4 linked regions of the Homo sapiens genome follow. The protein of the gene in region 1 interacts with the protein of each later gene in a pairwise test. Each region holds a gene or a part of one and is shown on either strand. Other genes may lie near its edges. The genes, in order: GOLT1B, SLC10A6, SHISAL2A and SAR1A.

What was found.
Region 2: the proteins of GOLT1B (region 1) and SLC10A6 interact in binary tests that used the Homo sapiens proteins (3 or more experiments, as listed by UniProt).
Region 3: the proteins of GOLT1B (region 1) and SHISAL2A interact in binary tests that used the Homo sapiens proteins (3 or more experiments, as listed by UniProt).
Region 4: the proteins of GOLT1B (region 1) and SAR1A interact in binary tests that used the Homo sapiens proteins (3 or more experiments, as listed by UniProt).

The regions. Positions count from the first base shown.
Region 1 is NC_000012.12:21,497,734-21,505,356, reverse strand, and holds the start of GOLT1B (vesicle transport protein GOT1B), read right to left. Parts: upstream 3,569-7,623; 5' UTR 3,434-3,568; coding exon 3,409-3,433; intron 1-3,408. Other genes in the region: RECQL (ATP-dependent DNA helicase Q1), read left to right, coding at 5,787-5,802. UniProt on the Homo sapiens protein: May be involved in fusion of ER-derived transport vesicles with the Golgi complex.
Region 2 is NC_000004.12:86,824,891-86,832,722, reverse strand, and holds part of SLC10A6 (sodium-dependent organic anion transporter), read left to right. Parts: intron 1-842; coding exon 843-931; intron 932-4,554; coding exon 4,555-4,730; intron 4,731-7,145; coding exon 7,146-7,303; intron 7,304-7,832. UniProt on the Homo sapiens protein: Transports sulfoconjugated steroid hormones from the extracellular compartment into the cytosol in a sodium-dependent manner without hydrolysis.
Region 3 is NC_000001.11:52,636,168-52,643,999, reverse strand, and holds part of SHISAL2A (protein shisa-like-2A), read right to left. Parts: intron 4,026-7,832; exon of another isoform or gene 3,933-4,025; intron 1,138-3,932; coding exon 998-1,137; intron 1-997.
Region 4 is NC_000010.11:70,160,505-70,167,514, reverse strand, and holds part of SAR1A (small COPII coat GTPase SAR1A), read left to right. Parts: intron 1-4,755; exon of another isoform or gene 4,756-4,825; intron 4,826-5,583; 5' UTR 5,584-5,599; coding exon 5,600-5,657; intron 5,658-5,776; coding exon 5,777-5,896; intron 5,897-6,445; coding exon 6,446-6,511; intron 6,512-7,010. UniProt on the Homo sapiens protein: Small GTPase that cycles between an active GTP-bound and an inactive GDP-bound state and mainly functions in vesicle-mediated endoplasmic reticulum (ER) to Golgi transport.

The sequences.
Region 1 (7,623 bases):
AATTCTATTAAATAACTATTTAGTAGTTAGGATTAAACATCGGCAGCTTTGTTAGTTGAAGATGACTAATTTCTATCATTTCACAAATAACCTTGATGATTACATAAAAATTCTGAGATGTTTTTAGAAAGGAAGGTATATGGAAAGACACCTACTATGTACTGAGAATTTACCACGAATTAGGCCTTATGAAGTGCTTCACATACCTTATATATAACTTAATACTTCCAATACTACTGGAATGCAGGTATAATTACATCTTTTTAAAGATGGAGGAAATTGAAGTTTAGAGAGTTGACTTAAGTTGCCTAAAGCCACACTTCTAGATAAGCATTCGAACCAAGGTCTTTTGAATCCAAAGCTCATGTGCTTAACCATTAATGCCATACCTCTTCCCACAGAATTTTTATTTTTTAGGTTAAAGGTGTTTGGTTACATGAAACTCAAGGACACTGGAGTATTCTGAACTTCTGGGGGACGCATCTTTTAGGGGATTCAAGTTTAATATTAGCTTGTTATCTAACATAGCCAAGTAGAACTATTAAAAATTAACTGCGGTCAAAAAGGCCAATCTCTGAGTATGGTTTACCGTGTTATGAAGTGTTTATACAAAAATTTTATAATTTCTTTAACAAAATTGTGAGGTAAAAGGTAGCACTGGTCCTATGGTTCATATGTGCAACCATGGACCTAGAGGTAATTCAGTAACTTGTTCTTGATCATAGAAGCAGCAAAAATGTGTGTGTGGGTGCTGGTGGTATGGAGGCAGGTACAACAGTCTGTGAAGTCAGCATTCAACCAGTCTTCTCACTCCACAGACAATGGTCCTACAACTACAACATGGGAACCAAAATATTCCACTACTTTATCCAGTACAGTCCAGCGGGAGACATTGCCCAAAACATCTTTGCCACAACTGGTACTGGCAATGACATTGCCAAGTAGCTCCTGATCCACACTGGTCAAAAGTCTCAAATTGGCCTCATTGTGCCTTTTTCTCACCTCCAGGATCCCCCTTTTCCCTATCCGTATGCATTCATAAGCCCTCTGGCTATCAAAAGCCTTGCATAGAGCTGCCTTCTTCCCATCGGAATCATATCCAGTAAAACAAACTTATCTTCCTTCACTCCTCCCACATGTTTAAAAAACTGTCCACAAGTTAAAAAAAATATAAAAACAATTTAATAAAACGAATCTGTCTAACATAAGGAGCATACTGTGGAAATTGTATAAGGAAAGACACGCATAATCTAATGGCAAACACTGTTAGCATTTTGATATCTTATTCACAATTTTTTAAAAGCAGCATTGTCTCTCTTACCATACCCTTTGAAAAACAGAAGTCAAGCAAGAATTCAATTGAACATTAACTGTACTGGAGAATGCAATTATCACACTAGGCTTTTAGACAATGTGATGAAATGAAGATTTAGAGGCAGCATGCCCCTCCTCCGCCCCTCTGAATAAGTCTTGTCTTTTTTGGGGCGGTGAGGAAAGTCCTAGAATGCCTTAAAATAATCATGAATTTCCATTTATTCTACTCTGAGCAGTGCTTGGCCACTCTCTAAAAACCAAAATCCCAGAATAATCCTGACAAATCACTTGAATGATGGCCAATCCCTGCAGTTAAACACACTCACACACAAACACAATTTGAAATCCAAAATGCATTTGGTTCACTAATCGTTTTATGTTTCAATCCACTGTTTCACCTAAAACATGTGACAAGTGAACAGCAAAGAGTAAAATTTCATTGCCCTCACAAAATTTAATGAAGTGAGGAGAATGCTTCTCAGGGAGAATGCCCATAGTCCAAACCCACTCTCTTGTTTTTATAAAGCAGGCACTCATCACTATATTAAGTCTTCAAAAATATAATTTCTATGCACAGATTATTCTCAGATCTCAAATAAAGTTTATATCAAGTCTTCTTAGGTGATAGTGGGGTACAGTGCAAAAGGTTTCTGAGCCAGCACACCTGGGATCAAGTTTTGTTTCTGTCACTTTTTCTTTGACCATGCACTCAATTTCTTTTGTGCCTCATTTAACTTATGAAAGGGGCATGCTTCTGTGAGCCTTACAGGGCTCTTATAAGAATTATGCATAATGATTCACATGAAAGCACATGGTTAACTGAAAGAAAATACCTTTATATAATTGCCAGTAATTATTATTACACTAGATTCCTATCCCCTCAAGACTACACTTTTATTTTCTTTGATCAGAACAGGCCAGGCCAATGGACCAAAGTGGGCGGCAACCTTGGGGCAGGTGGCCCCAAGAGGCAGCCCCAGTCCAGCCTCAGGAGGGAAGACAGCCTGATTGGGGGGTGGCAGTGTGTGTAGGAGGCCTTAGAAGCTCTGTGAAGTTGGTCTGCCATGACTTGAATCTCCACAAGAAGACTCCACTTTAAAATAGGGCATTTTAAATAAACTTCTATTTTTCACTTCAATTCACTGTTTAAGTCTTAAAATATTGAAAATCTGAGTTAACTGGAGTGAAATGAAAGGCGTGGCAGATAAAGCAAAGTGAGACAAAAAGAGACTCTTATGAACATCAAAATATGAGGTACAGAGCTTGGGCAGACATAAATACAAAAATTATTAATATTAACAAAAAGCAGTAGGAAAGTGGAAATATTATAATGAAAGAAAAGGAAACCGATATCAATGCTAGCTTTAGAGATGAAATAGGCCTGGAGAACTCTGTGGCAGGCAGAGAGCGATGCTAAAATAATAAAACAAGCCACAAAGCACAATATACAATACTAACGAAATATATCCTTTAATGGCACACAAAGTGGCTTTTCTCTACTGCTTGAAACTTTAGCAGGTAGAAAAGTGAGAATGTTTCAAGAGACTTCTAAAAGGTTGCTTACAGTACTGGCAAAAAGCGAATATTCAAAATGCCACATTTAAGCGTAAGGACATTTTCAAAAAGAGCCTACTGTAGGTGACATTTAAAATACCGCCTCCCAAATAACCAGCCAGCCAGGGACTTGTAGAGGACCCGAAGTGTGTCATGCGCATAAACGATCCCGAGAGTGGGCCGCGGGCACCACGCAAACTTTCTCTTGTGGCAAGCCCCTAGAACAAAGCGCCCATCTCACTGGGGATGAGGAGATCAGCGCGACCCTGGAATGAGACAGACTCTGGGCTAAAGCTCCCCTCCCAACATAGGGCGTCCCACCCTGCCCCACAGACTCTTCTCCCAGGTCAGGTCCGCCAGTCCAAGTCTAGCCCCGGCATCCCGAAGGCAGCCCCTTAGGGTCCCAGCAGCCCTAGCTCTGTCTCGCAGGCCACCGCCCCCAACCCAGAGCTTCATTCATTGACCCCGGCGGAGGGGCGAGACCCAGCCGGGCGATGGGTGTGCGCGGCTCGAGGCGGGGGCCCCGGAGCAGGTGCTTACTCTGCGTGTCCGTTAAGGAGATCATGGCTGCAGTGGTGGGGACAGCGGCGACAGCACCTCGGAAAGCCCAGGGTGGGAAGCTGAGTCGGGAGAAATGAAGCCGGGAAACAGCCCAGGCGAGAGCCGCCACGTCTTCCGGAAACACGCAGCCACCCTCACTGCCGCTTTAAGAGCGCTTCCTATTGGCGAAACCTGCTTCCAATCTCAACCAATAACTCGTAATGTTGTTCGGTGACGCGCATGGTGACCACACCCCTTGACCAATTAGAGAAGGGAGTTATCTGTGATTGGCTGAACGGACCGACCCGGAAGGGTGGATGCTCTCAGCTGGCTGGCGGGAAGATTTTACTCCCGAGTAGCGGAAAGATCTGCTCGAGGCCTGGGTGCTTTGGTGTCGGAGATCCGAGAGTCGGAGATCGGAGAGTCGGACACAGGACAGTCGGACACCGGACAGTCAAACACCGGAGAGTTAGACCGGGCTTCTCGGTGGGGAGAGGCTCTGGGATAACTACTGTTACAGCTTTGAAGGGTCAAGGGTGTGCGCTTTTTGTTTCATCCTTCCCTTTCCTGCTGCAGGGCGAGGCCGGTCTGTAGCGGATCACTTCCTTTCGCCCACACATTGGCGGAGGAGAAACCGGAAAGTTAATCACTGCCCTGCTCTGAGAACTCGGGCCTTTAGGGGCACGTTCGCCTGCTGACCGGTCTTCTGATCTCCCCATTCTTTTCCATGCAGGAGGATTGGCCACCAAAGCCTGTTTATTAGCAGCTGCCATTTGTTGGTAAATACTACTGGGGATGCTTCTTCCACCCCCTGCTTCACAGTAGCGGAAGGGCGGGCGTTATTAATATTAAATTACTATTGCCTCTAAATGCAGGTGGCGGGGAGAGAGAGGATTTAGCCTATGGTATCTCAGTGGCGTTTCCTCCAACATTGATGACTGGCTGTCACCCTGTAACATTCTTCCTGTGGATGCCTAGCTTATACTGCTGAGTGACAGACCTGCTGTAGTTCAATTTCTGGATACATTTTATGTTGAGATATCTTTTGCTGTTAAATCACATCATTTTGGGAAGGAGCAGTCTTTTAACCGCATAATCAAAGGAGTCATTTAAAATCGTGGGGGAGAATTGGATATAGACTGTGTCTTTTCATAAGGGTAGAAACAGCCCCTGCTACCTTAGCAAACCTGAGCCCTCACTACATCAAGGCATTTTCCTGGGCTGTGCGGATACAAAGGTGAAGAGATTGAACCCCAGCCCTGCTAAAGGACCTTACAGTCTATGGAAGGAATGTTACATTTTCATTACGTGAAGAGATGTTTGTATAGATCAAGAATTAGAAATCCTTGGTTTACTCTCCTATTTAGCCTTCTTTTAATGGTGTGGTTATTCCACATTCTTTAGCAAGGCAAAAAAGAGTCAGCCTATCTTTCCGGCCTAGTGGTGGCTTCAGAATTCTGTGTAGAAAGGGCGTAAGGTCAGCAGTCTAAGGATAGGTGTTGCAGAAGTGACTTTTGGAGAGCATCTTAGTTTTAGAAAATGTCCATATTAGAGAGATAGAAGAGGTGTTTTTAGGATTATGGGGAATTTAAAGTTTCTACTCTCCAGCCCCATTTTCCACTTGTCCATATGCATGCTTAGGTTTTAGTCATTCATAGATACTTAGAAATCATTACAAACCATTTTCCCCTCCCCCCACCTCTAACTTAGAAAATCTAGCTTTTCTGTAGAATACCAGTTTCTCTTTTAAGATTGGGCTTATATTGTAATTCTTTAACGCAAGGGCTCAATAAAATGTTAGATGATTAATTTTATTATTTATGTTGATGTATTTTGCTTAATCTGGTACATTTGAATCTATCCAACTTATTTATAAGATTGCCATCCTCCCAGTTTTACAGGTAGGGAAAGAGGCTTGGAGGAACAGCATATGCAACTTTGCCTAACATAGTAATTTAGTCACATAGCAATTGGTGCTAGACCTGTTGAATGTTTGCTGTTTTTTGTTACATCACTTTGTATCTTGTGGATGTTTGCTGAGTGTCATTGCTACTGTATTTGTCATGTATACGTTTATGTGACTTTGGACACTTCTCTGAAATCTAGAGAGTTAGTCGTTCTGAGTGTTGTGGGTTATTAAGCTGAAATATAGAGTTTTCCATAAAAAATTAGTGTCAAAAGAACCATGTGGTTCTTATTTGAAAGGTCACTGCAATATATAATTTACTTTCTAACATTTTCCGTGCTTAGGAATGACAGATTACTGTTGAGTGAACATCATTAATAGTACTATTTTTAAAAACTTGTTGTCACTGTTGTGCTTTTATTTTTAGAAAGAAATTTGGATTATTTTAGAAACAAATTTGGAAAGAAAAAGAATGGCGTCCGTTTCAGGTTAGTAGCAATGATTACATTTTCTTCTTCCTTCTGTTCTATTTCTGTTTGTATGATATTTGAAAAAGTTTGTTTTAAAAATTCTGATTATAGAAATGATTTTTTTCAGCTTTTTTATTGAAGTAAAATACACATTACAAACTTTGCCATGCTAACCATTATTAAGTGAATAATTCATTGGCATTAAATGCATTTAGACTGTTGTGCAGTCGTCACCACTATCCATCTCCAGAGCTTTTTCATCTATCCAGACTAAAATTCTATACTCATTAATCCGTAACTTTCCATTACTTCTCTTCTCCTAATCCCTGATAGCCACTATTCTACTTTCTGTTTCTTGACTATTTTAGGTACCTCATATAAATGGAATCATATAACATTTGTCCTTTTGTGTCTAATTTTTACCTTATTTGTGTCCAAATAAAGGCAATAGCGGAATCATGCTTTTGCCTATTTCTCTTACTGCTGAGTATACACTGACCCCTTCCCCAAAAGAGCAGGTACAAATTATCTTTATTCGTCTTTGGGTGATGCTCATTTCTCTTCTTGCTGAATCATGTCCTCCTTGGTAATACTGTAATGTATCGGAGAGGGACCAAATAAAAGGAAAAACCCAAACTTGGTTTATATACAAATTTTAAAAAGCAAGAAAGACTTATAGCTATTACAGTTCTTGTTTTTCAATTGGTCATGTGATCATAGTTTGTACTTTATAACTGCCTTCTTCAACTACCCATTCTGTATTCCTTGGTTCTCAGTTGGTAATGGGTCTTTGCTTGGTGGGGACTACTTGCCTTAGTAGTTTCCTATATTTGGTTATTATAGTTTTCAATTAACTTTAATCACAAGGTAAGGGAATACTGAGAGGTGCACTAGAGGATCTTCTGCTTTCCAGACATACTCTTCCTTATCCCTATAGTGTAGTAGCTATCTGATTTCCCCTTAATAGTCAGGATCACTTACCCCAGCAAGTATAGTAATCGCCTTCTTTGCCTGTTCATTTGTTGGCATGAGGAACCCAAAGTGGCCAAGTGGCAGTCAACTTCCAGTTTAATGGAACTATTGCTTTTTCCCCTGGTACAAGCATTTCTTTCTTGGTAACCAAGACCTCTAGGCCAGCAAGAGTCCGATGTTTCAAGGATGGGAAGCAAAAATTTCACTAGCGGATCACTAAGGGTAATAGAAGAGCCACTCCCATTTCCACCGCTGATTCCCGTGAATCGTGGCAATGGGAGAAACAGCACTATTCACTGATGTATAGCATGCCATATCCTGGAGGCTACTAGTCCAGCCCTTAAAGTGCTGATACCCAGCTGGCAGCATAATTGAGTCTGCAAAATGCCACTCCATTATTTTCTCAGGCTAGCTGCTGCAGGTTGTTGGTGAACATAGTTAGACCAGTTAATATCTTGAACATTAGCCTTCTGTTGTGCTTTGTTTGCTGTAAATGAGTTCTTTGGTCAGAAGTAATTTGGTGGGGAATACGATGACAATCAGTAGGAATTCCGTGAATTCCTGGATGGTGGACATGATAGAGCACTGCAGGCAGGTATGGTAAATTCATATCCGGAGTAAGCATCTGTATCAGTGAGAACAAAGTGCTGCCTCTTTCATTATAGACGGTTCCAATGCGGTCACTTTGCCATCAAGCATCTGTCTGTCCCCACAGAGAATGGTGCCTCCATTGGAACTCAAGGTTGGTATGAGCTGTTTGCAGGTTGAGCACTTAGCTCTGGATGTAGCCAGATGGGTCTTCGTGAGTGGCAGTCCATGTTGCAGAAGGCACTTTGTTCTTGACTTCGTTGTGCAAGGACAAGTGTG
Region 2 (7,832 bases), on another chromosome or scaffold:
CTGCCATTTTCCTAAAGATCTCTGTGGGTTTAGCAAGCTTAGAAGAGAAATGTGGTGAAATGATCTGCCTTTTCTAGTGTGGTCAGTTTTTGAAAAAGTGATAGGCACTATGTTTTTTTGTTTTTTTTTTTTGAGACAGAGTTTTGCTCTGTCACTCAGGCTGGAGTGCAGTCGTGCAATCTCGGCTCACTGCAACTTCTGCCTTCTCCTGCCTCAGCCTTCCGAGTAGCTGGTACTACAGGTGCAGGCCACCACACCCGGCTAATTTTTTTGGTATTTTAGGAGAGACAGGGTTTCACCGTGTTGCCCAGGCTGGTCTCAAACTCCTGAGCTCAGGCAGTCCACCCACCTTGGCCTCCCAAAGTGCTAGGATTACAGGTGTAAGCCACCGTGCCTGGCCAACACTATGATTCTTAAGACTCTCAGTGTCAATCTGGTGTCTCAGGTAAACACCTTGAAGGCTTACAACCCATGGCCCATAGTTCAAAACCATGAATGAACCCACTTCCTCACAATAGCGGGAGCCCACTGAATCTGTAAAATTTGAGGGAAACCTTAATTTAGAAACCATGATTTTATGTGCAACTTTTTTTCTGATCAGTAAGTTATTTAATATATTCTGCTTTGATAATATGTTCTGAAAGGCACTCACAAGACGCAAAATGTTATGAGCAGCTTATATAACTTTGGAGCCAATATTGTAGGCATTTATCCAGACTTGGGAAGTGGCATGGGAAAATGTCAGTTTAAAGCTGTTACCTAATTGAAATAGAAGTTGTTGGGAAGTACTGTGCAGTCAGGGTGAGAGGGAAAACCCTCTCATGGATTTTTCTTCTCTTTAGGAATTACCCTTGTGTGCCTGACCATTCCTGTGGCCTTTGGTGTCTATGTGAATTACAGATGGCCAAAACAATCCAAAATCATTCTCAAGGTGAGTGACTTCATGGCCACTGTTGGCACGTCCTCAGACTCAGGGGCCTGAAAGACAGAAGTGAGCAGTGGCTGGGACAAGTGAGCTTGTTGAGTACGGCCCCACACCCAGAAATTCTTCTTACACATCCTGTGGTTTTGGATCCAGGGATCATATTTCCTCCACCCTGTAAGCCTTGCTTTGCCACTCCCATAGTTCTGTACCCTGAGGCTTATGACGCCCTGGAAAATAAGCAACTATTGATTTAGTGTCAGGAAAGCTAAAGCCTGTGTGTGGACAGAAGAGCCCAGGCCCATCCATAAACAAGGCTTCACACAGGTGCTCTTGAGGCAGAAGCTGTTCAAGTGAGCATGAAAGGGAACCCCAGTGTTTAGTAATATGGCTGGTTTCTTGGAAGAGTAGGAGGAAGGGCTGTCTTGCAGAAGCATTCCTGGGGTCACGGCCAAAGCTGTTGTTTGTACACATGAGCAAGGGCTGCTGACTACATGAATAAGACTGTTTAAATGAAATCATCCAGGAAGCACTGAGGAGTCTAGCTATGGAATGATGGTGACTAGAACTTTCTACCTCCTCTTGTCTTTGCAGTCCTGCCCTTTGTCTGCTGGAGAAACAAGCAAATGTCTTTGTTAAATGGCTTTTAAAAATAATTCAAGAGGCCAGGTGCAGTGGCTCACATCTGTAATCCCAGAACTTTGGCAGGCTGAGGTGGGAGGATTGCTTGAGGCCAGGAGGTTGAGGCTACAGTGAGCCATTATCATGCCATTGCACTGGAGCCTGGATCACAGAGTGAGACCCCATCTCTAAAAAATGAAACAAAACAACAAAACGTAAAGAGGAGGCATTCTTAACAATGGTGTGAGTCTCCTAGGGTGCTTTCCATTTTTTTTCTGATTATGTATCACTTTAGCAGATAGAAGGTTGTAATATGTGTGGCTTTCATGAAGATTTTAAAAATGTTTCAGTTATATTTTACATTTATAAAGAAGTAAACATTTGGGGTTATTTAGAGTTTCATGTAGTAAATCTCAGTTAATTTTGTTTTCTGGTTTATGGTTTGGCTTGGTTTAAGCTTTTGCCGTTTGGCTCTACCTCACAGAACATTGCCACTCTATATGCCTGTGCTAATGGACACTGTTTTCCCAGTTATGCACAAGGCCAAACCATTCCCACCATTCCTTCAGTGCGATGGAGAATGAGAGGAGAGGGCTTGCCAAGCAGAAAATCAGCTGGGCACAGAGAGCTGGAGGATGGCTTAGTATAGTACATTTGTATTGCATATGGATGACTTTAACATCAATAGTGCACACCTGATTTTCACTCTCCTTTTTTAGCTGTACTCATGGAATAAAGTCCCATCTTTTCCACATTTATTTTTAAAAATTAATTAAGTTTTTGAGATAGGGTCTCGCTCTGTCACTCAGGCTGGAGTGCAATGACACGATCATAGCTCACTGCAACCTTGATCTCCTAGGCTCAAATGATGCTCCCATCTCAAGCTCTGAGGTAGCTAGCACTACAGGCATGCACCATCCTGCCCTGCTAATAAAAAGATTTTTTTTTTAGAGACAGGGTCTTGCTATGTTACCCAGGCTGGTTTGCAACTCCTGGCCTCAAGGGATCCTCTGGCCTTGGCCTCCCAAAGTGTTGGGATCACAGGCATGAGCCACTGTGCCTGGCCCCTTTTCCACATTTATTATTGTTATTTCAGTAGGAGAAAATTTCCAGTGTGGTAGTTATGATTTTGTTTACAAAACAAGAGGAGGGAAATGATCATGGAAACTTCTTGCTTTTCAAGTACTCTATCTTTGATTATTTTTCTTAAAAGGGCATTTAACAACAATAACAAAAATAATGCTTTTGGAGTTTTCCAGCTCCTCTATCAGTCCATCAGTGTCAATGGAGAAACCAGATACATTTTTTTACATGTCAGTTTTATTTTCTGTAACGAGCAAATTTAAAACTCTTTTCTTTTGGGTATTTCATAGGATTTATGGCAAAACATTTAATAATATGCATAAATATTCTAGACTACCTTAGTAAAAAAAAAAAACTAGGCTAATGTAATCATTATTTTAGTATATCTTCATTCCCTGTTCTTAGTTCCATTTTAATTTTAGATCTGACACATTTTCTGAACAAACTTAAGTGTTCCCCATTTGCTCTTGGTGGATATTAAACTTTGAAATCTTTGGTAGAGAGAGGAAGAGGGGATGTTACATTCAGAGGCCTTAGTTCCATTTTAATTTTAGATCTGACACATTTTCTGAACAAACTTAAGTGTTCCCCATTTGCTCTTGGTGGATATTAAACTTTGAAATCTTTGGTAGAGAGAGGAAGAGGGGATGTTACATTCAGAGGCTTTCTTTCTTTCATTTTTTTTTTAAACGGAGTCTTGCTCTGTCACCCAGGCTGGAGTGCAGTGGCGCAATCTTGGCTCACTGCAACCTCCACCTCCTGGGTTCAAGTAATTCTCCTGCCTCAGCCTCTTGAGTAGCTGGGATTACAGGCATGTGTCACCACGCCTGGCTAATTTTTGTATTTTTTAGTAGAGACAGGATTTTGCCATGTTGGCTGGATGGTCTTGAACTCCTGACCTCAGGTGATCCGCCCACCTCTGCCTCCCAAAGTTCTGGGATTACAGACATGAGCCACCATGCCTGACCAAGAGGCTTTCTTGTCTTAGCATCTTTTTCTTAGGCAGGGGTCTAGTCTGTCTCTGTATTTGAACAGTAAAAATGACCCCCAGAACACATTTATGGTATATTGGGTCATTCTGTTTGTTTGTTGTCTTCTCTAGTTTCCTACGACCATCCTCCTTCACATCCTGAATCATTTCAAATCAAGGTTGACACTGTAACTAGGTACACAGTTTACTGTCTACATGATATGAACAGGAGCTTGCCAAGATCCTGATTTTCCCAAAATACCCTAGGTTATGCTTTCTTCCTATTTTATCTAAATCTCAAACTATTCAAAATTTTGTTATTGTTGGCTTTTGTTTCTGTTCTTGTTAAACAACAAAAGTAAGGACAGTATCCATTTGGGAGAGGATAGAGGTCTCCATCAGTATTTCTCATGTGATCATGAGTATTAGCTCAGATTGTCCAATGAAGAATGGGTAAATTTTATTTGGAGGGGAGAAGGACAGGGATCAAAGCAGCAGGCAGCTGCTGGTGGTTGAAGGGGCGGTGGGAGGGGAGGCAGATGGTCAGGCAGGGCAGACGTCAGACTGGAGGTCACAAGCAGAGGGTCATAGAGGTGTGTGCAGGGGTGTTGGAAGCTCATTGTCAGATTCCATTCATTTTACACTTTTGTTCTACCCACAATAGAACTCTACTACCCAATCCTTTTGGCAAAATCTTCTACTTGAAGAGAAAGGTAGATATGCTAAAGCGAGACTTAGATTTGTGTCAAACTCCACCAATTTCTAGCATAGGCAAGTTACTTGACCACTTTGGAACTCAGATTTCTCCTCTACTAAATGAAATTGTATTTAGTCATCTCTAAGTCCCTTCTTTGTTCTAAAATTTCTAGATCCCAAGCATTTTACAACCTTGATGGACTTTGTATCATAGAGCAAAAAACCCTGAGTTTATATTCACTTATTTTATTGTTTGCTTCAGATTGGGGCCGTTGTTGGTGGGGTCCTCCTTCTGGTGGTCGCAGTTGCTGGTGTGGTCCTGGCGAAAGGATCTTGGAATTCAGACATCACCCTTCTGACCATCAGTTTCATCTTTCCTTTGATTGGCCATGTCACGGGTTTTCTGCTGGCACTTTTTACCCACCAGTCTTGGCAAAGGTATAGTTAAACTATCCATAAACTTTTTTGAGGAAGGTAAATTTAACACACTGCCACTGGTAGGCTTTGCTGCCTGTGTCAGGAGACATGAAGAGTTTTGACTTACATAGTGGAATCGACAGGATAACTAAGCATAAAAGAGGGTCATTCATGGCAATTCATGGAAAATATTGTGGTAATTCTTTATGTAAATTAAAGCAAAGGCCAAATTGATAGGAAGAGATAAATTTAAGTTAAAAAAGAATAGAAAACGACATGATTTGATTCCCACTTCGTAGAAGAAAGCAAAAAGAATTCTATGCATCAAAATATACTGGAAGAAATACACCATATGGTAACAATGTTTAATTTTGAGTAGCGAAATTAAGGATAATTTTAGTTCTTTAGTATTTCCTTGGTATATTTTTGAAGCTTTTCAATAAGTATGTACTACTTTTAAAAGCAGAAAAAAATTACTAAAGAAGAGTAAACTATGCAGTTGAATTCCAAAGGTGAAAGTTGGGAATTTTTAATTGGCTTTATGCTACTTCTAATCCACTTGGGGAACATTTAGGGTTGTACTAAGCGCCCGGTAAAGCTTTACCCCATCTATCTCATTTACTTCTTACTACAAGCTTGAGAAGTAGATCCTATCACTACCCTCATTCTACTGATGAGCAGACCCTTCAGAGAAATTAAGTGACTTGACCAAGTTCATAGAGCTAGAAAATTGTGGAGTTAGGATTTGGACCTGGGTTTGTTTCCAAATTTAACAATTAGGAACACAGTCTGTTGAGTGGTTGAAATGCAATTGGCTCTGGACAGAAAGTACTCCTATGGCAAGATGTAGTCCACAATCCCATCTTTTTCATACCTGATAGCCTGACAAAGCCCAGGACTGAGATTTGGCTCATGAATGGTGCAGGTGTGAGTTCCAGCTTTGTAGCTTAATCATATCGAGTTTTTGACAAAAGTCTCAAAGAAGTGAGGGTGGTTTGAGACAAGTGTAGCAAGCAATAGAATAAGTAGAAATAACGTATGAACACAGAGCTTGCCCTGTACCATTGACAGCATTTTCACCCCCTCATTACACACCCTTGTTACTTCCCCATTCCAGTCCAGCTTGCACAGAGGTGCTTGTTTGTTTTCTGAAACACCTCTTTTATCTCCTCACTTCCACATATAAAACACTGCAGGCTCCCTTTATAAACTGGAGACGTGAAACTGCTTAACTCAGCCCTCAACATCCTGCCCAGGTCTTCCCTCTATTCCCTCCTTTGTCTTTTCAAATGAGGTTTACTTCATTTTATGCAACCAGAAAACCAATAAAGTATAGAAAAGTAGAAAGCAAAAAGAAAAATTATTACCAAACTCTTTCACCAAAGATAATCATTTTAGGAATTTGGTCTTTATTCAGGGTTTTTGTGTTTTTATTTATTTATTTATTTATTTATTTATTTATTTATTGAGACCTCGTTGCCCAGGCTGGAGTGCAACCTCTGCCTCCTGGATTCAAGTGATTCTCGTGCCTCAGCCTCCCGAGTAGCTGGGATTACAGGAGCGTGTGCCACCACGCCAGGCTAATTTTTGTATTTTTGGTAGGGACAGGGTTTCACCATGTTGGCCAGGCTGGTCTCGAACTCCTGACCTCAGGTGATCCACCCACCTTGGTCTCTCAAAGTGCTGAGATTACAGGCGTGAGCCACTGTGCCTGGCCTTGTTTATTTGTTTTTAAGTGTTGGTTAGTTTATATTGTTTCATATGTCTTTCAAAAATATATATACGTTTTTCTTTTTGTAGAGACAGGGTCTTACTCTGTTGCCCAGGGTGGTCTTGAATTCCTGGCTCAAGCAATCTTCCCGCTTCTGCCTCTCAGTGCTGGGATTCCAGGCATGAGCCACCATGTCCTGCATCATATCTCTAACTCAACTTTCCATTCTTGTCTCCTCCAGTCCTCTCCTCTCTGCAGATTGGCTTACAGTATATGCAATGCCTGCTGAACAGGCCACACTCACACCTCTCCCTGGAACTTTAATTTTTATAATATTTCCCCCTCATCAAAAGCTTCTTCTATTTTTTTCCATCCTTAAATCCCACTCCTCTGTGAAGCCTTCTCTCACCCCTTCTGCCATTTTCTAAATTTCTACATCTGCGTGGCCTTTGGCCATACTTTGTCTTGTGTTGTTGCTGAACCTCTCCTGTGTGTTTATCTTGTCTTTTTACTCAGATGCCTAGGGCAGGGTTTGCAAAGCCTCACTCCACCGTGCCTCTCAGAAGACCACCTGCAGAATAGGCACTCAGCAAATAACTATGGAATGAGTACACATTTTCAGTGGCCTGAGGTCATAGCTTCTAATTGTTATGATGCATATGAGAAAATATTAGAATAGTTCTTATTGCTAGTGCGTTACTCTTGAAACATTTTCTTTTTGGTAGGTGCAGGACAATTTCCTTAGAAACTGGAGCTCAGAATATTCAGATGTGCATCACCATGCTCCAGTTATCTTTCACTGCTGAGCACTTGGTCCAGATGTTGAGTTTCCCACTGGCCTATGGACTCTTCCAGCTGATAGATGGATTTCTTATTGTTGCAGGTGGGTGAACACCCATTGGGTAGGAAATAACTGACGGGAAATTGTTCACCCCAACTTACCAACTTTTTTTTCAATCCAAACTTGCATGTGCTGCCCCTGTGATACACTTTTTGAAAGCCTGACATTTCTGGGGACGATAAGGCACATAGACAGGATAGTTTGGCGCACAAGTGGGAGTTTCACAGAAAAATATAAAAAGCCATCTGAAAATGAGCTTATAATTATAAACAAATATACTTCACAAAAGTGAATCCACTATCAGAACTTAGACTTCGTAACTTGTTAAGACAAGATCTCTATGAGCAATCATTGAGCTCCAAAGTGACATTTGCTGCACTTAAGCGTTGATTTGTTAGGTCTCATTAAAAGCCTTGAGGTCTCCCAAATGCCAAGTTATTTCAATGTTTCTGTGACTAAGACTTGTGCTGAATGGCTGTGAAATGTTTTTCAAATATTAAATATTACACATATACAAATATTGAAATATATATGTGTATGCACATGTGATTGCAGCCAAATATACATTACT
Region 3 (7,832 bases), on another chromosome or scaffold:
AAACTATACTGAAAGATCTTTTGCCAATAGAGACTTCCTTCCTCCCTTCCTTCCTTCCTTTCTCTTTCTCTCCCTTCCTTACTCCCTCCTTCCCTCCCTCCCTCCCTCTCTCTCTCTCTCTTTCTCTCTTTCTTTCTTTCTTTCTTTCTGAGACAGTCTCACTCTGTCGCCCAGGCTGGAGTGCAATGGCGCCATCTCGGCTCACTGCAACCTCCATCTCCCAGGTTCAAGCGATTCTCCTGCCTCAGCCTCCTGAGTAGCTGGGATTATAGGCGCCTGCCACCATGCCTGGCTAATTTTTGTATTTTTAGTAGAGACAGGGTTTCACCATGTTGGTCATGCTGGTCTTGAACTCCTGACCTCATGATCCGCCTGCCTCGGCCTCCCAAAGTGCTGGGATTACAGGCGTGAGCCACCGCGCCTAGCCCAGAGACTTGTATCTTTCATAATATCTTTCAGGATGTTGTCAAAATGTGTGCAAAAAAGGCTTGTGAAAAAGCAACACTTTATTTTTGGCCCCTTAGAGGCACTTGATAACCTATACTAATGAAGAAATGGGTAGTCTGGAACATCAGATTATTTAAAAAAACGCATACACACAATAAAAGCGCTTGTATTTCGTTTCTGATAAATTATGAGTTTGGAAGCAGCAGATTTTAAAAATTAATTCTATTTTGTTTGGGTTAATATTAAAATCAGTTTGCATTCCCCAAGGCTAAAATTAAAACATCATCTTAAACAATCCACAACATGGATTAATCTTTGTGTGACAAATGGAGTGTTGTCTACATTAAATTATTTTGACAAACAATGTAAACATGAAGAGTTTAGGATGGAAATGTTTAGATCACGAATCTCCAGAAAAATGTGCCGCTGCTTCTGCATATTCCAGGAATAGTCATGAGGCAAATGTTCCAAACATCATTTCTACATTTCTCCCCCCTTGAAAAGGTGCTAGTCTACCGAATACAAGGACATCACCTGGCAACTTCCTTACCTGCTGTCTGTAAGCTCAAGCCCAGGTCCAACTTTGTGTGGGGCTTAGAGCTGATGAACAGGTAGCAGAGCACACAGGCGGTAACAATGAAGGCGAGAAGAACCACTGCTGCTACGGACAGGCCTATGAGAGCGCCAATGCTGGGAAGAGAAGACCACATGGGAGCTGAGAGTCAGGAAGGGACTTGGGAGACAGATGTTATAAAAGTGTTGTAGCTAGGCTAGAATGAGCCTGCTGGGAAGAAAATGTACAGAATAAAAATATTTAAAAAAAATTTTAGGCCAGGCATAGTGGCCCATGCCTGTAATCCCAGCAATTTGGGAGGCCGAGGCGGGCAGATCACTTAGGGTCAGGATTCAAGACCGGCCTGGTCAACATGGTCTAAACACTAAAAATACAAAACTTAGCTGGATGTGGTAGTGGGCTCCTGTAATCTGTAATCTCACCTACTCGGGAGGCTGAGGCACGAGAATCACTTGAACTCGGGAGGCGGAGGTTGCAGTGAGCCGAGATCGTGCCACTGCACTCCAGCTTGGGTGACAGAGCAAGACTCCATCTCAAAAAAAAAAAAAAATTAGTGTTGTGTTGTAGGAATCAGCTTTGACTTTTGTTTTGTCCCTACTTGTCTTAAACAAGCTTTCTATGCTTCAGCATGGGAAAGAAAGTGCACCAACTATATGCCAAGGACTCACCACCAAGGACTCATACCTGACCCCGCTCAGCAGCACCATCTCCTTCCCTCCCTACTTTCCTCACCTGCTCCCACCCCAGGGACCTGGAGATGGTCTTAGGGGACCCCCCCATACTGCTGTTTCTTAAGAATCAAGACACATATAGTAGGCCTTAGTTAAAAGCCAGCTCTCCTTCCAGCCTTAGGTAATTTCTTTTCTTTTTGTTTTAAGACAAGTTCTTGCTCTGTCACCCAGATTGAACTGCAGTGTTGCCATCTAGGCTCACTGCATCCTCAACCTCCTGGGCTCAAGCAATCCTCCCACCTCAGCCTCCCAAATGGCTGGGACCACAGGCATGTGCCACCACGCCCAGCTATGTTTTTGTATTTTTTGAAGAGATGGGGTTTTGCCATGTTGCCCAGGCTGGTCTTAAATTCTTGAGCTCAAGCAATCTACTCATTTTGGCCTCCCAAAGTGCTGAGATTACAGGCATGAGCCACCATGCTGGCACCCCCTCCCACTCACCCCCGCCTCTTTTTTTAAAAAAAAGAAAATAGAGACCAGGTTTTGCTATGTTGTCCAGGCTGGTCTCAAACTTCTGGCCTCAAGCAATCCTCTCACCTCAACCTCCCAAAATGTTGGGATTACAAGCATGAGCCAACCGTGCCCAGGCAAGCCTCAGGTAACTTCTGACCCAACCTCCATGGTTCTGCTGACAACGTCAGTGTCAACTCCATGTCTCAAATACCTCCACTGCTGGTCCCTCACCCTCCAACCTCACTGCCTCTGGCCCCAAGTCAGGCCTTGGTCACCTGGTCTGAAGGAAGAAACAGCTTCCTTTTTTCCTCCCACAACACTCAACACAACACTTCTGACACCAGATGTATGGGGGGGTTTTCCCCACACGTCAAGCAATTCTCCAGCAGACACCATCAATTCTGGAACCATCTCTAGGCAAATAGTGTCAGCTCCCACAGGTTACGGGCTCAGTCCCACAAGACTCCCTCCTGCCCTCCCATACCAATTGCAAGTAGTAGGTTGTCACCTATACTTCTGACCCACCAGCTATAAATCAGTGTGCCCATTGCCCCTTCCTTGGGGTTGATTAATTTGCTAGGACAGCTCACTGAACTCAAAAAAACACTTATGTTTACCAGTTGATTAGGAAGGATATTACAAAGGATACAGTTGAATGGCCAGATGGAAGAGATACATAAGGCAAGGTATAAGGGAGGGGCGTGGAGCTTCCATCTGGTCTCCAATCACACAACCCTCCAGGGACCTCCACGTGTTCAGCAATCCAGAAGTTCTCTAAACCCTGTCTTCGGGATTTTATGGAGGCTTCATTACATAGGCATGATTGATTACCATTGGTGATCAACTCAACCTCTGGGCCCTCTCCCCTCCCTGGAGGTTGGAGTGAGGTGGGGCTGTAAGTTCCAGTGCTCTAATCACATGGTTGGTTTCCCCGGCAACCAGCCCCCATCCTAAGGCTCTCCAGGAGCCCACCATGAGTCATCTCATTAGAACAAAAGATGCTCCTATCACCCAGGAAATTATAAGGAATTTAGGAGCTCTGCGTCAGGAACTCGGGGTTCAGAGACCAAATTTTAGAACAAATGATGCTCCTAGCATCTCTATCTACAAGGGCTTTAGGAGCTTCAACTCAGGAACCAGGGGCAGAGACCAAATATGTTTTTTTTTGTTTGTTTTTTTTTTTGTTTTGAGACAGAGTCTTGATTCTCCTGCCTCAGCCTCCCTGGTAGGCGGGATTTCAGACCTCAAGTGATTCCCCCGCCCTTGACCTCCCAAAGTGCTGGGATTACAGGCGTGAGCTACCGTGTCCGGCCAAGACCATGTTTAATCAGCCTTATCCTCCCATTGTCTAGGCCCTGGCATGTGGTAGGCAGTTGGTAAATATCCTTTGGTACCTACTATGTGTCAGGTGTTATGGAACACTCTCCCAATGAGAAGGTATAGGTGGCATCAGGCTTTGTCCTTGCCTACCCTTTCTTCTCTAGCTCTCCTGCCCATTTTCTTCCCTGACTCTGGCCCCAGACACCTGCCCTTGCCACTTCTGCAGGATTTCGCTCCCTGTTAGTTAATGGCTAATTTCACTCAACCAAAACACCTGAGAGCTTTGAAGAGTCTGCCTTCCCATGGCTAAATAAATTATTGGACATCTCTGCAATGGAACAGTATAGCATATATAGAGACCTTATTAATGATATAGATGTTTTCAGGCAGGGCGATGTGGCTCATACCTGTAATCTCAGCACTTTGGGATGACAAGGTGGGCCGATCACTTGAGTCCAGGAATTCAAGACCAGCCTGGGCAACATGGTGAAACCCCATTTCTACAAAAAATACAAAAATTAGCCTGTCATGGTGACCACATGCCTGTAGTCTCAGCTACTCAGGAGGCTGAGGCGAGAGGGTTGCTGGAGCCCGGGAGGTGGAGGCTGCAGTGAGACATGATGGTGCCACTGCACTCCAGCCTAGGTGACAGAGCAAGACCCTGTCTCAAAAAAAAATGTTTTCAGATCTTTTAGATTTTAATATGTTTTGTTTTGTTTTTTGAGATGGAGTCTCACTCTGTCGCCCCGGCTGGAGTGCAGTGGTGCAATCTTGGCTCACTGCAAGCTCCGCCTCCCAGGTTCATGCCATTCTCCTGCCTCAGCCTCCCGAGTAGCTGGGACTACAAGCACCCGCCACCACGCCCGGCTAATTTTTTGTAATTTTAATAGAGACAGGGTTTCACCGTGTTAGCCAGGATGGTCTCGATCTCCTGACCTCGTGATCCGCCCGCCTCGGCCTCCTAAAGTGCTGGGATTACAGGCGTAAGCTACCACGCCCAGCCTAGATTTTAATATCTAAGATAATGGATAAATCTTTATGAACTTATTGATAATATTAATTGAAAAGAGCAGGACACACTACTAATTACATGGCATAACCCCAATTTAACTAAATAAGTATACATATATGCATAACTATACACATGTACACATGCAAGGTTGATGGAGATACACCAACTAACAGGCTGTCTCTGGGTATAGTTCAGGATGTGGATGTCCTGTCTGGGGCCCCTTGGATCTTATCATTGTGGAATATTCTGATACTCTAGCCAAAGTTTCCTTCTTTTTTTTTTTCTTTTCTGAGACAGGATCTCACTCTACCACCCAGGCTGGAGTACAGTGGCACCATCATGGCTCACTGCAACCTCAACCTTCCGGGCTCAAGTGATCCTCCTGCCTCAGCCTGTTGAGTAGCTGGGACTACAGGCATGTGCCACCACACCGAGCTAATTTTAATATTTCTTTTTACAGACTGGGTTTCACCATGTTGCCCAAGGTTGTCTCCAACTCTTAGGCTCAAGCAATCTGCCCGCCTTGGCTATCCTGGCCAAAGTTTCTATTGCAAACAGCTGTTACCTCTTTGTCTGAGGGGTTTCTTGGGCCCAGAACAGGCTCTGTGGACACACTGGCAAGTCAATAGTGCAGGATAATCAATACCTTCCTTACCCCACCAGCCCATGACCGATGACTGACAGAAATTGTTAGCTAAATATCCAGCTTCCTGGCCGTCAGGTGGGATAACCCTGAGGAGTACATTCTACACTGGCTGGCAGAGTTTAAGCTCCAGTTACCTCTGGTGTAATTTGCTTGGTAATACACCCATTGTTGGCTTCTTTCTCTCCCTGTCTCACTTTCTTATCCTCTACCAGTGATTTTTGGGATCACTTTCCACATAAACTACTTGCCATCAAATCCTCATCTCAGAGTCTCCTGGTGAATCCAAGCTTAGACACTGGATTACTCATGACTTCTTTCTCTTTTCATTTCTCTTGTCCTTTTCACATTTTTTACATTGAGTATGTAGGGCTTTTTAGTTCTTTAGTTACTTTAATTAAACATTATTTTCTCATTTGAGATATGCTTACTGTTCGTAGGGCTGTTATCTAGGAGAATTGTGCTTTGCTTGGGACCCGTGTGTGGGACAACTCTGGGTTCCTGGATAGAAAGGGGCCTCTAAGAGAGGCCCTTTGAGGAGTGAGGGGGAGAGTTTTGTTTGTCCCTGTCTACCATTCTTTCTCCAGCTTTCTTGCCCATCCTCTTCCCTGACTCTGGGGTGATACATTCCAGATCGGAGGTCAGTCAGGGGGCAGGCACTGTCTCTGCTGGTCTGTCCTGGTGACAGAGGAACTAAACTCCAAGGACAGAGTTGGGAACAACAGGGCAGGCTCCAAAGAAGGAAAATCTGTGCTTGGCATGAGATGAACTTCAAATGATCCGAGTTGTTCCATGGTGAATGTACTGCCTCAAGCAGGGATGAGTCCCTGTCATGGGAGAAGCTTGTGCAGGACACACGAATGAGTTATATCTTTCAGTGAAGTTAGAGATTCCTACCCTGGGTAGGAAATTGAATTAGAGAGCCTCGAGTCTTCGAGGATTTTACTGTTCTGACTCTGAAAGATAAAAACCCACTGTGACTCCTAAGAAAGAATTGGAGGGACAATCTAACAACCAAGGGCTTTGGAGTCAGGTAGTTCTAAGTTCAAATCCTGGTTCTGCCACATTTAAGCTGAAAAATCACTTTACCACTCTGACCTTCATTTTCTTCCTTTATAAAGGTTTCTATCTCACCAGGTGGTGGGAAGGATGAAATGAGGTGCTGTAGACACGGTCTGACCACAAACTCTGCCTTCCGGCAAGGCTGCTGTCTTCTGGCTCACACCCTCGTAAAAAAACAGAACTAGTGATGGAGGAGGGTGTTTGGCAAGTGGACCAGACGGTGTGACAGCACCAACTGCTTCTCCACAGGGTGTCTTCACTTCCTGAGGCACAATTTTAAAGATAGCAATTCTCCTTGAGCACTGTCTCTCCCAGGAAACAGTGCTTACCTGGAGATTTTGAAGTTTTTAAGGACTGACTTTCATGAAAAGGGCCAAACGGAATTTACAGCAAAACAAGGTCTCCACCCTGCAATATCCGGGCTCTGTTAGGAGCATGCCGGAAGAGTTATTTCAAGGTTCAGAGCACGTTGATGCCCTAGACATCCTGAGGACTTTCAGTTCCTCTCCTGCACTTTGCAATTGTCTGTGGTATTTATGAATCACATTATGTCTGAGTCCAGGAAGAGTCACCCTAGAGCCTTTAGCCACCTTGGGGTCACAGAATGGGAACACACTGACATGGGATGTTACCCCAGAGATCAGCCCATCCAACCCCCGAAGAAAGCATTGTCTGAGCCACTAAAGCATGCCACGTCAGAGTTTCCAGGGCAACGGAAGGGACCACAAGACACAAGAGCTGTGTAGGGAAGGGGTTAGTGGAAGAGGGAAAGGGTCCTGGCTGGGTGCTGAGAGAATTACTCACCTCTGTGTCCCCAGGGGCCAGCACAGTGCCCAGAAGACACTAGAGGGTCAGTGAGTATTTTTCAGATGATCTGAGTGGATCAGGTTGTTAAGAGAGATCCAGACAGTAGTAGACAGGACAAGCCAGGGCTTGAGATGAGACAGGCCTGAGTTTTCAACCCAGCTCTGCCACTGCCTCTCACTGGGACACTCCCAGATAGTAACTTAACCTTTCTCAAGTTTTCTCATGTGTAAAATGAGAAGTGCCAGGGTTGTGAATGTGTGAGAGCATCTAACCCTTGGATAGTCTTAGGTAATGTTCTTTAAGTCTCAGTCTGCTATGATATTGCTAGGAGATCTCGGACAATTCACTTCCACACTGAATTTCACTTCCCACACCTATGAACCAAGGAAAGGGAACTCTCTTATTGAGCACCTAACATATGCACTGGTCACTTTCATGTGCATTATTTCTCTTAGTTCTTACAATTCCATCACACAAATATCTCTATCACCATTTTAAAGTTGAGAGAAAATACTAGGAAGTTAAATAACTTTTCCAATCCACATAGATAATAAGTGACAGATTCTGACCAGCCCCAAAGCTCCACACTGTCTCTGTACTATCACACAAATATCTCTATCACCATTTTAAAGTTGAGAGAAAATACTAGGAAGTTAAATAACTTTTCCAATCCACATAGATAATAAGTGACAGATTCTGACCAGCCCCAAAGCTCCACACTGTCTCTGTACTATCACACAAATATCTCTATCACCATTTTAAAGTTGAGAGAAAATACTAGGA
Region 4 (7,010 bases), on another chromosome or scaffold:
TCTCCTGCCTCAGCCTTCTGCATAGCTGGGATTACAAGCAAGCGCTGCCGCGCCCAGCTGTTCATTTTATTCTTCATCTGGCATTCTTTGAATGTAAGGGGATTTTTTTGTGGGTAATGCTTTTACTGGTTACTGTTCATGAAAATTTTGAATGCAGTTGGTCATATCTAGTATAAAGCCCTGTGTTCAGATGCTCCTGCTGATGGAGAGGAGTAAAAGTGTGGACCTTCCATTTTTCTGCACCGCATCTGAGATACTAAAGCAAAAATTCAGCATGGCCAGACAATGCTGAGAAACCTTAAGACCCACCAGTGTGTCTAGATCCTACCCTCTTAATTTCATTCAGAGGTCATTTTGCTTATTACCAATATATGTAAACCTTTTAGTAGCTTTTGATAGCTATGAGAAACAATAGAAAAAGTAGTGTTAATATCAGTACCAGTTAAGTTATTTACTGGCTTGGGAACTTACTGCTATATCCTGAAAAGTATTCTTTTTTTGCTTTTTTGTTTCTTGAGACAGGGTCTTGCTCTGCCACCCAGGCTGGGGTGCAGTGACACAATCATAGCTCACGGCAGCCTCAAATTCCTGGGCTCAAGCAATCCTCTTGCCTCAGCCTCCCAAGTAGCTGGAACTACAAGCACGTGCCACCATGCCTGACTAATTTTAATTTTTTTTTTTTTTTTTTGTAGAGATGCAGGTCTCTCTATGTTACCCAGGCTGGTCTTGAACTCCTGAGGTCAGGGAGGAATCCCCCACCTCAGCCTTGCAAAATGCTGGGATTACAGGTGTGAGCCACGGGGGCCCGGCCTGAATAAGTATTCTTATTTTAAGAAAATCTATTTGTAAAATGAGTTTGGGTGTGATTATTCATGTATGAAAAGATTCTCTTCTTATCCCTTAATGGTTCTCTAAAATAGTGATGTCATTTCTTTTTATAAATTGAGACCCGTGTCTGCAAAAATGATTAAATATTGAGATAACATTGGTAAATGGAGCAGGGCAAGTGGTGCTGGCCAGTAGAATTTTGGGTGACTTTTGTTTTTTAGAGTTGTTTACAGGATAGATTAATATGTTTTTCATTCAAATCAATGTGCTTTTCATTCTTATTTTCTATTTAGTGCATCTAAGTGGCATTCTGATTCACATTATTGATAAGACTGATTTCCTAGAGTTGTTCTTCACTGGATGACAGCAGTCGTATGTCTAGGGAATGTGAATGAACCGCTGCCTGGAGGAGTAAGTCACACAGTAAAAGAAAGTGTAGGCATACCTCGGATATACTGTGAGTTTAGTTCCAGACTACTGAAATAAAACAAGTACAGTAAAGCAAGTAACACGAATATTTTGGTTTCCTAGTGCACATAAAAGTTACGTTTACACTATACTGTAGTCTGTTAAGTGTACAGTAGCATTACGTCTTAGAAAATACGTACCTTATTTAAAAAATACTTTATGGCTAAAAAATGCTAACAAGCATCGGAGCCTTCTGCGAGTCATAACCTCTTTGCTGGTTGGGGATCTTACCTCCATGTTACTCCACGTTGATAGCTGTTGACTGATCAGGTTGATGATTGCTAAAGGTTGGGATGGCTGTGGCAGTTTCTTAAAATAAGACAACAAGGAAGTTTGTTGCATCAGTTAATGCTTGTTTTCAAGAAAGATTTCTCTGTAGCATGCAATGCTGTTTGATAGCATTTTACCCAAAGCAGAATTTATTTCAAAATTGGAACCAGTCCTCTTAAACCCTGCTGCTGCTCAAGTAAGTTTATGTAAACTCAAGTAAGTTTTTGTAATTTTCTAAATTGTTGGTGTCATTTCAACAGTATTCATAGCATCTTCACCAGGACTAGATTCCATCTCAAAAAAACCACTTTTTTTGCTTATCCATAAGAAGCATCTCTTTATCCATTAGTTTGATCATGAAATTACAGCAGTTGTCACATCTTCAGGCTCTACTTCTAATTCTAGTTCTCTTGCTGTTTCTACCACATCTAAGGTTACTTCTTCCTCCAAAGTCTCGAACCCCTCAAAGTTTTCCACGAGGGTTGGAATCACTGTCTTCCTAACTCCTGTTAATATTGATATTTTGACCTCTTCCCGTGAATCATAACTGTTCTTACTGGTACCTAGAATGGTGACTCCTTTCCAGGAGGTTTTCAGTTTACTTTGCCCAGATCCAGCAGAGAAATCAGTCTATGGCATTGATGGCTTTGTGAAATATATTTCTTTTTTTTTTTTTTTTTTTTTGAGACGGAGTCTCGCTCTGTCGCCCAGGCTGGAGTGCAGTGGCGGGATCTCGGCTCACTGCAAGCTCCGCCTCCCGGGTTCACGCCATTCTCCTGCCTCAGCCTCCCAAGTAGCTGGGACCACAGGCGCCCGCCACTACGCCCGGCTAATTTTTTGTATTTTTAGTAGAGACGGGGTTTCACCGTTTTAGCCGGGATGGTCTCGATCTCCTGACCTCGTGATCCGCCCGCCTCGGCCTCCCAAAGGAAATATATTTCTTAAATGAAAGACTGGCAAATCGAAAATACTCCTTGATCCATGGGAAGCAGAATGGATGTTGTTAGTAGACATTAAAACAACATTAACTTCTTTCTGCACCTCCATCAAAGCCCATGGGTGACCAGGTGCGTTGTCAATGAGCAGTAATATCTTCAAATCTTTTTTTCTGAGCAATAGGTCTTCACAGTGGGCTTAAAATACTTAGTAAACCATGCTGTAAACAGATGTGTGGTAGGCAGAGTAGATTTAGTATAATTCTTTTTTTAATTGTAATTTTTTTAATTGGAAAACAAATACACAACTTGGAATGGATTTGAGGCAAATTGTGCCATAAGCACATTTTCTTTAAGTGGCTAAACAAAGTTTAAAAAGCAAGTAACAGTAAAAGAAAATGTTTCTGGTACAGGACCAGCAGTACAGAAAAAACAGTGTGTGAGGTACCTGGGAGTACCTGGATAATACACCCATTCTGCAGTAGTGCAACTTTTAAGTACATATTGTTGGCTGTCCGTAGTCCACACAGAGTTACAACTCCATACTTCAACACCATGCTGACAGTTCCTAAAGAAAACTACTTTAAAAAAAGGCATAACCCGGATGTTCCCTTATTTGACCAACTCCACCTAAGTTTAGATGTGCAGAAGGGCTTAGATATATCCGGAGTAAGCCACAGGCAACATGTTACTTCATCAGTTTTCTAAAATAAGGTTTCAGGGCAATGACAGTAAGGGAAGAACACATGGAGGAATGAAGTCCTGATTACCATACATGCATATTTTTTTTTGACAGTAGGGAGAAGCCTTTTACAGATAAGTTACAAACAAAAGGCAAATAAACAGTTTTGTGCAAGAAATTTAACACATTCTGTACAAGGTCTTCATTATGCTGTCATCATTTGTACAAACTCATAGTTTACTTGACCATCACCATCAGGATCTGCTTCCCTGATCATTTAATCAACTTCTTCATCTGTTAACTTCACTCCAAGGTTTGTCATCACATGGTGAAGTTCTACACCACTAATATAGCCATTGCCATCCTTATCAAACACACAGAATGTTTCTCTAATTTCTTCTTCACTGTCTGTGTCTTTCATTTTTCTTGCCATCATTGTCAGAAATTCAGGGAAGTCAATTGTGCCATTACCATCAGCATCTACTTCATTAATCATGTCCTGTAACTCTGCTTCTGTGGGATTCTGCCTGAGACCTCATTACAGTTCCTAGTTTCTTTGTTGTTATAGTTCCATCACCATCTTTGTCAAATAGTGAAAAAACTTCTTTGAATTCTACAATCTGCTCCTCAGTCAGTTGGTCAGCCATGCTGCAAGTGCTACTGGTTTCCGAGACGCAACCACACAACCACTCTGCTCGCTCACTTGCTCCACTTGGACTGATTTAGTGTCATTCTTCAGGGCCCTAGGATTTTCAAAATGGTAAATGAGTATGGGTCCTAGGATTTTCAGAATGGTAAATGAGTATGGGTCCTAGGATTTTCAGAATGGTAAATGAATATTGGCCTCAACGTAAAGTCACCTTGCATTAGCCCATAACAAGAGAGTCAGCTTGCCCCTTGAAGCTTTGAAGCCAAGCAATGACATCTCCCCTCTAGCTATGAAAGTCCTAGATGGCTTTTCAAATAGAAGGCTGTTTTGCCTACATTGAAAATGTGTTGTTTAGTGTAGCCACCCACCTTCATCAGTTATCTTGCTGCAGCTTCTACATCAGCACTTGCTTTTTTACCTCGTGTTTTTATTTTATTATTATTTTTTATCAGCAATAAGGCTGTTTCATTTTCTTGACGTTCATGGGTTTGCTGGAGTAGCACTTTTAATTTTCTTCAAGAACTTTTCCTTTGCATTTGCAATTTGGGTAACTGTTGAGTGCAAGAGGCCTAGCTTCTGGCTTATCTCAGGTTTTGATGTGTCTTCGTCACTAAGCTTAATCATTTCTAACTTTTGCTTTCAAGGGAGAGACCTGTTACTTTCACTTGGAGAATAGGGAGGCTTGGGGTGGGGGCAGGACTGTGGAGGAAGTCAAGTTTGCTGTCTTCTATGGTTGTGGTTTGTGGCACAACAAAACAATTATACTAGTAATACCAAAGATCACTGATCATAGATCATGATGACAGATATAAGAATAATGAAAAAGTTTGAAATATTGTGTGAGAATTACCAAAATGTAACATAGAGACATGAAGGGAGCACATGCTGTTAGAAGATGGTACTGATACACTTACTCAACTCAGGGCTGCTTCCAACCTTCAATTTGTAAAAAAACCAGAAAACCTCAGGATCCACAAAGTATCATCAAATGAGGTATGCCTTTATATTTTTAACTCCTAGTTCTCTGAGTATCATAGATCAAAAACTATTAGGAAACAAGTTATTTTTGCACATATAAGGATTCTAGACTCTCCTCCAGATTGCAAAATCTGTGTCAAGAAAGAATATTAGTTTCTCTTTACTTTGCTTCCTCCCCTCCCCTTCCATCCCCTCCTCCCCTTCCCCTCCTCCCCTCCCCCTCCTCCCCTGCCCCGCCTCCCCTCCCCTCTCTTTTCTTTTCTTTTCCTTTCCTTTCCTTTCCCTTTCCCTTTCCCTTTCCCTTTCCTTTTCCCTTTCCCTTTCCCTTTCCCTTCCCTTTCCTTTCTCCTGTCCTGTCCTGTCTTTTTTATCAGAGTCTCCCTCTGTTGCCCAAGTGAGTGCAGTGGCACCGTCATGCCTCACTGCAGCCTCAAACCCCTGGGTTCAAGTAATTCTTCTGTCTCACCCTCCTGAGTAGCTGGGACTCTTGGTGTGTGTCATTATGTCCAGCTATTTTTTTAGTTATTTGTAGAGATTGAGTCCAGCTTTCTTGCCCAGGCCAGTTGTGAACTCCTGGGCTCAAGTGATCCGCCTGCCTTGGCTTTCCCAAATGCTGGGATTCCAGGTGTGAGCCACCATGCCTGGCCTGCTTTCTTATTCCCGAAAACAAGAGACTATAAATGTGCATCATGGCTAGGGAACAAGAGTTAACCTCTCCACAATTGTACTGTCATTCAGAAAGCTAATGTTTGCTACTTTCATATTTTATACAGGTAGTAAGCATTAATAATGTCTTTCATCTTTGAGTGGATCTACAATGGCTTCAGCAGTGTGCTCCAGTTCCTAGGTAAAGCCATTTCCTTGAAATACAGGTTTCAAAGTTTGTGCCTTTCCCTCAGTAATTTAACTACAAATAGGCTTTGGTCTGTAGAGAGCAAATGTGTTAACAATTTTTTTCTCTTTTAGGACTGTACAAGAAATCTGGAAAACTTGTATTCTTAGGTTTGGATAATGCAGGCAAAACCACTCTTCTTCACATGCTCAAAGATGACAGATTGGGCCAACATGTTCCAACACTACATCCGAGTAGGTTTGAAAATATCAGGTGACCTTTTGATCTTTAAAGGTCAGTGTTAGGCGTGGAGGATGAATCCCTAGTTGGTGGAGTTCTTTTATTAACTGAAGTCCCAAAAGCCAACTCATACGAGAAAGTTCCCTGTAAGACACACTCAGGTTATGTACTTTCAGATCTAAACCTCTGGAACTTTGTCATTATCTGTTGTCACTGGTCCTGTAAAGGGACACCTCTCCTATACCTACTTCTAAGAAGTGGAAAATAGCTTGGAAGAAAAGAAACCTTTGGCTTTTAGAATAGTTTAAGAACATTTCACCCTTGTATTCCTTTTCTTTGTTGGGAGTGGGGCGTTGCCTGGGCTGGTCTCAAAAATCCTGGGCTCAGATTATCCTCCTGCCCTCAGCCTCCTGAGTAGCTGGAACTACAGGCGGGTACCACCACACTCAACTTCTTGTATCTTTTTCTTTACAAGATGAAAGCATTGATATTGGCTTATAGTACTAGTAGTTGGGGGTTGTTGAGTTGACAAGTTTTTTTCTTCTTTTTAAACAATTTTTCAGCATCAGAAGAGCTAACAATTGCTGGAATGACCTTTACAACTTTTGATCTTGGTGGGCACGAGCAAGGTAAGTGATGACTCAGTGGAAAGCATGTTTATTGACTTATTTTTTTTGTGCCTCCCAGCTCCTTTTAAAAGCAGTGTGTCATTTTTACCTTTTAAATTACTTACATTTTAGAATTAGGATCTTATTACTTTAGTGAAGTTGTTTTATTCATTTATTTTTTTAAGTAATTTCAAACTTGTCAAAAGTTGCATTAAATAATACACAGAAGTCCCCTTCAATATTACCCTATTGAGCTGGGATAAAGTTAGCCATAATGTATAACTATTCATGAACTTTTAAGTATTTGCCTGATATAGCCAAACTCAACTCAAATCTTGACTGAAAATTTTTACAAAGCAGGACAGCATCTTGCCATTTTAATCTTTACTACATTTTTACTTATTAATGTAATTTACCTTGTAACTGGAAAATATGTTAAAAGATATATGTATTGCTTCAACAAGAGTAATTATTTCATCATTTTAACTAGGCTTGCCCTAAGCCAGTATATTTTCTTCTA